Regions from separate parts of the Homo sapiens genome. Here region 2 is linked to region 1. The links come from fine-mapping of genetic effects on gene expression. A gene starts in region 1. The other region holds a variant in brackets. All regions are shown on one strand. Distances are between the middles of the regions. Region 1 holds the start of CYREN (cell cycle regulator of NHEJ). Region 2 has its middle 9.1 kb from the start of TMEM140.

Region 1 (5,383 bases):
TACATCTTGCACATGAACTGGTTTTTTTTTTTTAAATAGTACTCAGGAGGCCTCATTACTTTTAAATTATACAATATTTTTTGCATAAAAATTTTTTTTTATAATTTTTTTCTCACGACTTTCCCAGACAATTTTTTAACATGTCTCAATTTTTTGACTGATTAACAAACTTTTTTTTCTTTAAACAACCAGTTAATTTATTTCAGGACAAGAATTTACCATATAACTTTTTTTTAATATAAATTCTGCCTCCCCCCTTTTCTTTCCTTTTTAAAAAAGCGAACTTTCTTTATGTCTTTGGACTAGACTGTCTAAGGCCACAAGATTAGAAGTTACCAAAATACATGTTACACTGTTAACTTTTAGCAAACTTCACTTTTGTTGAAAACCTTGTAAGTTTGAGATTTCAATTATCCTTTGCTATTAATAAGAACTTGTTTAGTCTAAACTCTTAGAATTGGTACAGATGGCCTCTTTTTCTCTTTTCTGGTCGTTCCTTGGCTCTGCCAGCCGCTTATGCTGCTGTTCTCTTAACTACTGTGGTGGGGGAAAGGGGGTCTAAAACCAGCTGTAACTGTCTATGTACAGAAACCGGTCTGGGTGCTTTGGCTTACAGGTTACCTTGTGCCATACCTTTGAAACAAGGGACCTGTCCAGGCTTCCTTCTGGTGGCCAACCTACCTCTAATGCTAGCCAGTCTATTTCACACAAAGTTCTAAGTTTTCCTGGTGTCATACTAACACCGTAATCTCCTTTAAATTCTCTCTTGAAAAAAAATTTTTTTAACATAGGTCCCAGTGGGGTGGGCTTACTTTGCACCTGACCCATGTTTTTTTTTTTTTTTTTCCAGACAAAATACCACGCTCACACCACACATACCACAAGACAAAGAACAGGTAAAGAGGGCACACACACTTTTACCGTTTATACCAAACCAAAATCACGAAATTCAAAATCCGAGTACCAAAAAATTCAAGCCAAGTCAAAACCAAAACCAAAGTATCCAGCAATTCAAGTCAAGTCAAAACCAGAACAAGAGTGCCCATGCAGGCATGCTGTGGGTGATCAGGCCACGTTTCCACTCAGATGGAGTGGGGCAAGTTCCAAAGACTAGTCTTACCAAGTCAAGCCAAGTCAAAACCAGAACAAAAGTGCCAATACAGGCACACCGTGGGTGATCAGGCCACGCTTCCACTCACGTGGAGTGGGGCAAGTTCCAAAGACTAGTCTTACCAAGTCAAGCCAAGTCAAAACCAGAACAAAGATGTCAATACAGGCACACCGTGGGTGATCAGGCCATGCTTCCACTCACATGGAGTGGGGCAAGTTCCAAAAACTAGTCTTGACAAGCTTCAGATGTCTGGACTTCAAGTGCCAGTTCCTTCCCGGTGTTCAGCCAGTGTTAATCCTTCTCGGGAGCCTGCTATGCGCTGCTCTGGCAAGGCATTCCACCGGGGCCATTTCCTACCCGGGAGCGCTCTTTGGATTGCGTCAGTCAGGCTGGCCGGAGTCCTCTGCAGGGACGCTCCACAGGGCTTGTCAGTCACCTCGCTTCCTGGTCAGGGAACCAAGGACTGTAGCAGGACAAGCCACAGACAAAACCTCTCAGACACGGAGCTGTAGAAGAAAGGGCTTTATTCAGCTGGGAGCATTGGCAAGCTACTGCCTTAAAATCCGAGCTCCCCGAGTGCACAATTTCTGTCGCTTTTAAGAGCTCACAACACTAAAATTTCACATGAAAGGGTCGTGATTGATTTGAGCAAGCAAGGGGTACGTGACAGGGGCTGCATGCACCGATGGTCAGGGAGAAACAGAACAGGGCAGGGAGTTTCACAATGTTCTTCTATAGAATGTCTGGAATCTATGAATAACATCGGTTTCTAAGTCATGAGTTGATTTTTAACTACTAGGTTTAGGCCAGGCAGGCCCAGGTCCAGTTTTGGGCCTGGCGCTGGGCTGCCTGTCTTTGATTTCACTTCCTTTTTTTTTTAAAAAAAAAAAAAAAAACAGGTACTGAGTATAAAACAATATGAGAGGGTCTCTCTCTTCCCTCGCTTTAACTTTCGGAGGGCTGAAATTCTTTCTAGCCTTGGTTAATACAGCAATTCATTCCATTCTAGCTATTGTTATTTCTCTTACTATAATTTTACTATTAGTACTTACGCTATTCTATTATTTTCTTAATTTTCCACTTAATTAGGATAACAAACCGAGGCCGGGCTCCCATCCTCCTCAAGCACACGAGGGGGGCCTGGCCCAGCAGGGAGCTTCGCCTGGTTTCTGAGGGAATTCCCGGCGGGCCTTTCCAAAACATGCCCGTTCCCTTCCGCTAACTTCAGGGGCCAAGAATTGAACTTTCACCCTCCTCAAGCCGGTGGCGCTGCCTCGCTGGCGTTCCCAGCGCGCAGCCAACCGGATGCCAGCCGGCGGCATTACCACTGCCAGCATGGGGCGCCCGCGGACCTCCGACTGAGGCAGCTGCCGGGAGCCGGAAGTGTCCCGGGCGCCGGGACTGCGAGGGGGCCGGGAGTTCCCCAAGACCGGAAGTGTCCCGAGGCCGGGAGCCCGCGGGACCCCGGAGCGCGCGGGGCCGGAAGAGGCGGGCGGCCAGTGGAGGTCCGCAGAGTTTGGGCGCCAGGCGAGACGGCAGGGCTTAAAGTTCCGGGTGAGGCGTGGGTCCCACAACCGCTTGGAATTTGCCTCCCGGCTCCGCTCTGGAAGCTAAGAAGGGGCACGAGAGCCGGAGACGGGAACCTGAGAGCAGGGAAGCCAGTAGCCGGCCGGAGGAGCGCGCGGCCGCTCCAGTCGGAAGGAGCCGTTGCAGCCCTGCCCGGCGTGTGGCGGGGTCAGCGAGGCCCCTGCGGTGCTTCGCCCGCGCCTTCCGCTCCGCACTCACCCGCCCTCTGGGCCTCCCACAGGTCGGCGCCGCCAGCGGCGGGTACCGGCCCGCAGAGGGAGGGCGGGCTGTGAACTGGCAGCACATCGCGTTCCCGCGGGGCCCCCATTCTGCCCAGGCAGGGAGCGGCTGGGATGGGACTGAGGTCGGTCCGCGAGCGCGGTGCCCCAGAGACCCGGCTTCTGGAAGTTGCCGCGGCCTGCTCTTGGGGCCCAGAAGTAGGGCGGGGAGGCGCGGGGTCTGGAGTCTGCAGGACCTGGCTGCGAATCCAACCAGCTGATTTCAAACTTTTCTGTGATCTTCTGCAAGTTAACTAAGTCTCAGTTCCTCGTTTGCGAAATGTACTTAATAGGCACCCCAGGGTGAACTAAATTTGTCCGCACAGACTGCAGCATTGCGCTTGGGAGGCGCCTTAGGGGGTAGGAGTCACTAATATCACTGAGTTTTGACAGAAATGAAGGTGCATTGGCAAAGGTGTGCCCCATGGCCGGGCAGGTTAGGAGGAGGGCCTGGTAATATTTTTTCTTAAATTGTAAACAGCCATCTGGATGAGCAATGCATTATCAAATTATGATTCAGAGAGGACTATCGCTGACTACTCTTTTTTTTGGGCAAACCTCCGCTTCAGGAGCTTCTGGCTTGATTCCTAAGTGGAAGGTAGAGACCTAGGCCCTCTGAGTCACAACTCCATCTCTCTGGGTGAGGACTGAGCTCCAGGACTGCTGAGTGGAGGCAGAACAATTGGGATAGGGAAAAGAGAGGCCAAACTAGATCAGAGGCTGGCGTGGGCTTCAGAATCTACAGACTGGCACAGTTAATGCCTCCGGGCCCCTATTGCTGCTTCAAGTTTGACCAATCAGAAGTATCTTTAGCTTAAGGGCGGCGTGTTGGCCAATGAGACTTTATTGTGAAATAAAATGCCCTCAGTTTCATTTAACTGAGCCACCATAGAAGAGTAGAGAAATCGAGTTGGCCAGATGAGGGAGAGGCCATTAAGAGGTATTTTAGGGATTGAATGGGCTGGGCACCCAGAGGACAGTGGCATTTGGGGTGGTAATGAGAAGGAACATTAGGGGCCTCCGCCTCCTTCCGTTCCTCCTGTGCTGAGTCAGTCAGCACAGAGGCTGCAGGAGGTATCTCTGGTTGGCTTTGGCTGCCTGTAGGGGGCACCAGCTTTGGGGAGGTCAGAGGGCTCTCTCCTGAGCTGCTGTCCTGCCCACAATCACACCTGCCTGATGCCTGTGAATGGCCGTCTGAGTCTCTTGGGCCTTGGTCACTTCTGGCCTGCCCTGCACCGACCAGTAACTGTGCCTGATGACTGGAGGTATGGGAATTCACCGGACTTTATTGTTCTTTGTAGGAATCAAAGATCAACTCCCACTGAGGACAAATGGACCTGTAATTCCGGGTGTGACGAGAGAACGAGATTTACCTTCCTGAATTAAAAAACAGGTCATTAAGCTTGGGCCCTGACTCTTCTTTGTGAGAAGGTACAGAGATGGAAACCTTACAATCCGAGACTAAAACGAGGGTCCTTCCCTCATGGCTGACAGCCCAGGTGGCTACAAAGAATGTGGCACCAATGAAGGCCCCCAAGAGGATGAGAATGGCAGCAGTGCCAGTGGCAGCAGCAAGGTGCGACAGCTCTGGTCAGAAGACTCCTGCGAATCTGGCAAGTGGAGCAGGGGCCTCCATGACCTGGGCCAGGTCTTCCAGCCTAGGCAGAACAGCAAGATGGGCGGGTGTTTCAGTCTGATCATCTCTTGAGCTTTTAGAAGGTGGAGGGGCTGTGGGCGGGAGGCAAAGCGGGTTAACCCTCGAGGACAGGCACCCACTTCTGCCTCTGCACTGGTGAGTGCCCTGCCCTCAGCACACACAGAGTGGGTTCTCCATGTCAGCCAGTCTCTGATGCCAGTTGTCCAGAATGCCAGTCTCTTCCTTTACAACAAACATGGTAACATCAGATGGGCAAGATCAGTGGAAGGGTCTGTTCTGAGTGGTGCCTGCCCCTGTGGACAGACCTTTAGGGATGGACAGATGAGCAGCAGCTGCAGGGCCAGCAAGAGCTAAGGAGCTGGGGAGTGAGTTAGTTGAATGACGGTAATTGCCGGGGGGGGGCGGGGGGGGGGTGGTGAGTCTCCAGGCTGCACTGTGAAGTGGGCGGGGCCCCAGCACTCGGTGTTTCCCTCTCTGGCTCCTCCTCCTCTAAGGTTTCCTGACTGACAGCCTTCCCTTGTGACTGCTGCCGTCTTTCCCTAAGTCTGGTCCTGCTTTCAGGTTCCTCTCAGTACAGCCTCAGCCCGAGGTTCCCTTCCTCTTGCATCCATGTGTGTGTTTCAGAGGCGGCCATCCTTCCCTACTTCCAGATCCTTGTAGGGCAGTTGGTGGAGGGTGGGAGGCACCCCGGTGTTGCCTCCATGAAGCCCTGTGCCAGTCACTGGGCTGCAAGGCTGAGGAAATTGTGTCCGTGTCAGAAAGCTCCTCAGC
Region 2 (5,383 bases), 32 kb after region 1:
TAGAAGAACTAGAAAAACAGGAGTGAACCGACCCCAAAGCTAGAAGAAGAAAATAAATAAGCACAATCAGAGCTGAACTGAATGAAACTGAGACACAAAAAAACATACGAAAGATCAACAAAACCAAAAGTTGGTTTTTTGAAAGAATAAATAGAATTGATAGACCACTAGCTAGACTAATGAAGAAACAGAGAAGATCCAAATAAACACAATCAGAAATAACAAAGGGGACATTACCACTGACCCCACAAAAGTATAAGAAACCCTCAGAGACAATTATGAATGACTGTATGCATACAAACTAGAAAACCTAGAAGAAATGGATAAATTCCTAGAAACATACCACCTCCCAAGATTGAACCAGGAAGAAATTGAAATCCTGAACATACTATAACAAGTTCTGAAATTGAATCAGTAATAAAAACCTACCAACCAGAAAAGGCCCTGGACCATACAGATTCATGGCTGAATTCTACCAGACATACAAAGAAAAACAGGTAGCAAACCTACTGAAACTATCCCAAAAAATCAAGGAGTGGGGACTCCTCTCTAACTCAGTCTATAAGGTCAGCATCAGCCTGATACCAAAACCTGGCAGAGGCACAATGAAAAAAAGAAAACTTCAGGTCAATATCCTTGATGAACATAGAGGAAAAAATCCTCAACAAAATACTAGCAAACCGAATCCGGCAGCACATCAAAAAGCTAATCCACCATGTTCAAGGTGGATGGAAGGTTGGTTCAACATATGCAAATCAATAAATGTGATTCATCACATAAACAGAACTATAAACAATCTTTCCTGCATCTATTGATCATCTTAATAGATGCAGAAAAGGCTTTTGATAAAATTCAGCATCCCTTCATGTTAAAAACTCTCAACAAACTAGGGATCAAGGCAACATACCTCAAAATAATAAGAGCCACCTATGATAAACCTACAGCCAACAGCATACTAAATGGGCAAAAGCTGGAAGCATTCCCTTTGAAAATGGGCACAAAACAAGGATGTCCACTTGCACCACTGCTACTCAACATAGTATTGGGAGTCCTAGCCAGAGCAACTAGGCAAGAGAAAGAAATAAAAGGCGTCCAAATAAAAAGAGATGAAGTCAAACTATCTCTCTGCAGATTATATGACTCTATACCTAGAAAACCCCATAGTCTCTGCCCAAAGGCTCCTAGATCTGCTAAGCAACTTCAGCAAAGTTTCAGGATACAAAATCAATGTACAAAAATCAATAGCATTCTTATACACCAATAATGTCCAAGCTGAGAACCAAATCAGGAATGCAATCCCATTCATAATAACCACAAGTAGATAAAAATACCTACGAATACAACTAACCAGGGACGTGAAAGATGTCTACAATGAGAATTACAAAGCACTGCTGAAAAAAATAAGAAATGACACAAATAAATGGAAAAACATTCCATGCTCATGGATAGGAAGAATCGATATTGTTAAAATGGACTTACTGCCCAAAACAATGTACAGATTCAATGTATTCTTTATCAAACTACAATATTTTTTACAGAATTAGAAAAAAAAAACTATTCTAAAATTCATGTGGATCCAAAAAAGAGCCTGAATTGCCAAAGCAATCCTAAGCAAAAAGAACAAAGCTGGAAGCATCACACTGCTTGACTTCAAACTATACTACAAGGCTATGTAACCAAAACAACATGGTACTGGTACAAAAACAGACTAATGAAACAGGTTAAAGAACCCATATATAATGTTGTACCCTACAACCATCTGATCTTTGACAAAGTCAACAATAACAAGCAATGGGGAAAGAGCACCCTATTCAATAAATGGTGCTGGAATAACTGGCTAGTCATATGCAGAAAATTGAAATTGGACCCCTTCCTTTCACCATATACAAAAATCAACTCAAGATGGATTAAAGACTTAAATGTAAAACCTAAAACTATAAAAAGCATAGAAGAAAACCTGGAAAATACCATTTTGGACATAGGCCCTGGCAAATATTTCACGTTAAAGACTACAAAAGCAATTGCAACAAAAACAAAAATTACAAGTGGGACCTAATTAAACTAAAGAGCTTCTGCACAGCAGAAGAAACTTTGAGCACAGTAAACAGCCTATAGAAGGGGAGAAAATATTTGTAAACTATGCATCTAAGAAAGGTCAAATATTAAGAATCTATAAAAAACGTAACAAGCAAAAAACAACCTCATTAAAAAAAAAAGGGCAAAGGACACGAATAGACACTTCTCAAGAGAAGACATACACATGGCCAACAAGCATATGAAAAAATTCTCAACATCACTAATGATTAGATAAATGCAAATCAAAATCACAATGAGATACCATCTCACAACAGTCAGAATGGCTATTGTTAAAGTAAAAAAAAACTAGTGAGGTTGCAGAGGAAAGGGAATGCTTACACACTGTTGGCAGGAATGTACATTAGTTCAGTCACTTTGGAAAGTGGTTTGGGGATTTATCAAAGAACTTAAAACACAACT[A/G]TCATCTGACCCAGCAATCCCATTATGCAGTATATATCCAAAGGAATATAAATTGTTCTACCATAAAGACACATGCATGTGTATGTTCACTGTAGCACTATTCACAGTAGCAAAGACATAGAATTAACCTAGATGACCATCAATGGTGGACTGAATAAAGAAAATGTGGTACACATATACCATAGAATACTATGCAGCCATATAAAAGAATGAAATAGTGTCCTTTACAGCAACATGGGTGAAGCTGGAGGTCATTATCCTAAGCAAATTAATGCAGGAACAGAAAACCAAATGCCACAAGTTCTCACTTATAAGTGGGAACTAAACATTAGGTACACATGGACACAATGAAGGGAACAATAGACACTAGGGCCTACTTGAGGGTGAAGGGTGGGAGGAGGGTGAGGATCGAAAATCTACCTATTGTGTATTATGCTTATTACATGAATGATGAAATAATCTGTACACCAAATGCCCACAACATGCAATTTACCCATGTAACAAACCTTTATTATTTTGTCTTCCACTTGTTTTCTACCTCCTTCTATTTTAATTGAATATTTTGTATGATTTGATTTTTTTCCTATTTTAGTATATCAATTCTACCTCTTTTTTACCCTTGAATTTACAGGATACATTTACAATGAATCCAATCCTTTCTCAAATAACCCTATACCACTTGCTTCTTTGGTAGTACAAGTATTTTGTAACAGGGTATTCCCAATTCCTCCCTCCGATTCCTTACAACATTGCTGCTATTCATTTCACTTATCAATAAGCTATAATTTCTGAATACACTGTTATTGTTTTGAACAAACTATTATCTGTTAGGTAATTAAGAAAAATAAAAGATTTTATTTTACCTTCATTTATTCCTTTTCTATTGCTTTCCCTTTGTTTACGTAGGCCAGAATTTCTGACCTGTATAATTTTCATCCTTTCTAAAGAATTTCTTTTAACATTAAAAAAAAGAGCAGCTCTAGAGATGACAAATTCCCACAATTTTTGTTTGTCTGAAAAAGTCCATTTCTCTTTCACTTTTGGAGGACAATTTCACTGGATACAGAACTGTAGTCAGCGGTTGTTATGGTCTGATGTTGCATCCCCCAAATTTCATATGTTGCAATCCTAACCCCTAGTGTGATCGTATTAGAAGACAGGACCTTTGGGTGGTAATTAGGTCATGAGGGTGAAGCCCTCATGAATGAGATTAGTGATCATAAGAAGAGACGTGGGATGATCTCTCCCTACCATGCGAGGATACAACAAGAAGGCCACCTGCAAACCAAGATGACTGCCCTCACTGGACACTGGATCTGTTGACATCTTGATCTTGGACTTCCCAGCCTCAGAACTGAGATAAATTTCTATTGTTTCATTAAGCAGCCTAGTTTATGGTATTTTGTTACAGCAGCCTGAGCTGAGACAGTGGTTCTTTAAACCCTTTAAATGTTTCACTCCACTCTCTTCTTTCTTGCATGGTTTCTGAAGAGATGTCTGATGTAATTCTTATCCCTGCTTATCTATACATAAGGTGTTTTTTTCAAGATTTTTTCTTGGTCTTTGATTTTTTTGGTATTTATCATTCCTGGTATTCTGTGAGCTTTCTGGATCTGTGGTTTGGTGTCGTTCATTTTGAGAAATTCTCCGTCATTACTGCTTCAATATTTCTTGTGTTCCTTTTTTTCCTTTACTTCCAGTAGTCCCATTACACGTTACATACCTTTTAAAATTGTCCTGCAGTTTTTGGATATTCTGAATTTTTCATTCTTTTTTGCTCTGCATTTAAGTTTTGCTAGTTTCTATTGACATTGTTTTAAGCATACTGACTCTTTCCTCAGTTGTGTCTTACCTGTTGGGTAGTCCATCATCATTCATTCTGTTACAGTGTTTTTGATTTCTAGCATTTTTTTTTTGTTTCTTAGTTCCCATCTCTCTGCTTATATTACCCATCTGTTCTTGCATTGTCCAATTTTCCCATTAGAACTGTCAGCATATTCATCGTAGTTGTTTTAAATTTCTATGGAAATATATGGAAGGTTTGCCAGAGAAGGCAGCAGTTGAGTTGAATCTTAAAGAAGTAGGGGCTGCCAGGTGGAGGAGATGCTGGGCTGAGAGAATAAATAGCTTTTATGAGAGAGTGGCATGCTCAGAAAACTGAAAGTATTGTAGCATAGTGAGGAAGTGGACTGCCAATCCTCTTACTTTGGGTAAAGCATCTTATATTTGTATCAAATACAAGGAGTGCAATTATGGACCAAGGTAAAATTGTTTAGGTAATATCTGTGCATCCCTAAATCTTCCAGGAAACTGGTTTATCACCTTTTTTGGTCATCCACAAAGACAATACATTCCAGAGTTTACAATTTCAAACTCTTAGGCAGTCGAAGATTCAAATGACATTTCACTGAATTAAAAATATTTTCCCAGAGTTTAGGCTTTTGTCCTGATCTTTGTGGAGAAGGGCCAATGGAATTTTGAGAACTCTTACTCCATCCTGAAGTCAGCTACAATAAATGCTATGATCCGGAACATTAACCTCTGGCTTTCCCAAGCCCGAGCACCTACCTGGCAGAGGGCATCCCAAAAGCAAGTAGACTTCTGCTCTTGCCCAAGATAATCACTAAGGATGAGAATTTTATACCAAAAGTTGGGGTACTCTTTGAGAACCAGGATACTTGCCTTCAAAGCACCATCTAATGTATTTAGAAGATAGCTATTTCCCACCAGACATTAAAGATTCCTGAGGAAATCTATGGTCATGGTCCTTTAAAACATAATAGTTACTCTTTTAACAGTGCAGTGGGCTCTCCTTGGAAACTCTTTAGCTACTAGAAATACTGTTGAGAGTAGACCACTCAACCCCAGATCTTCATAGTTCCACCCA

Evidence for each region. PIP is the estimated chance that this variant, and not a neighbour inherited with it, causes the effect. A credible set is the group of variants that fine-mapping cannot tell apart.
Region 2: its variant is the best candidate, but not a certain one, in a credible set for the expression of CYREN in whole blood (INTERVAL, PIP 0.88).

The regions. Positions count from the first base shown.
Region 1 is chr7:135,167,934-135,173,316 of GRCh38, reverse strand. It overlaps CYREN (cell cycle regulator of NHEJ), which reads left to right and starts at 2,610. Exons shown (of 4, transcript NM_024033.4): 1 at 2,610-2,665; 2 at 4,257-4,531. The coding sequence starts at 4,395. RefSeq lists enhancers at 1,870-2,089, 4,170-4,299 and a silencer at 2,470-3,079.
Region 2 is chr7:135,136,250-135,141,632 of GRCh38, reverse strand. It overlaps a transcript of CYREN not described here. Among named protein-coding and RNA genes, the nearest start is that of TMEM140, 9.1 kb to the left of the region's middle. The variant A/G (reference allele first, on the strand shown) is at 2,497.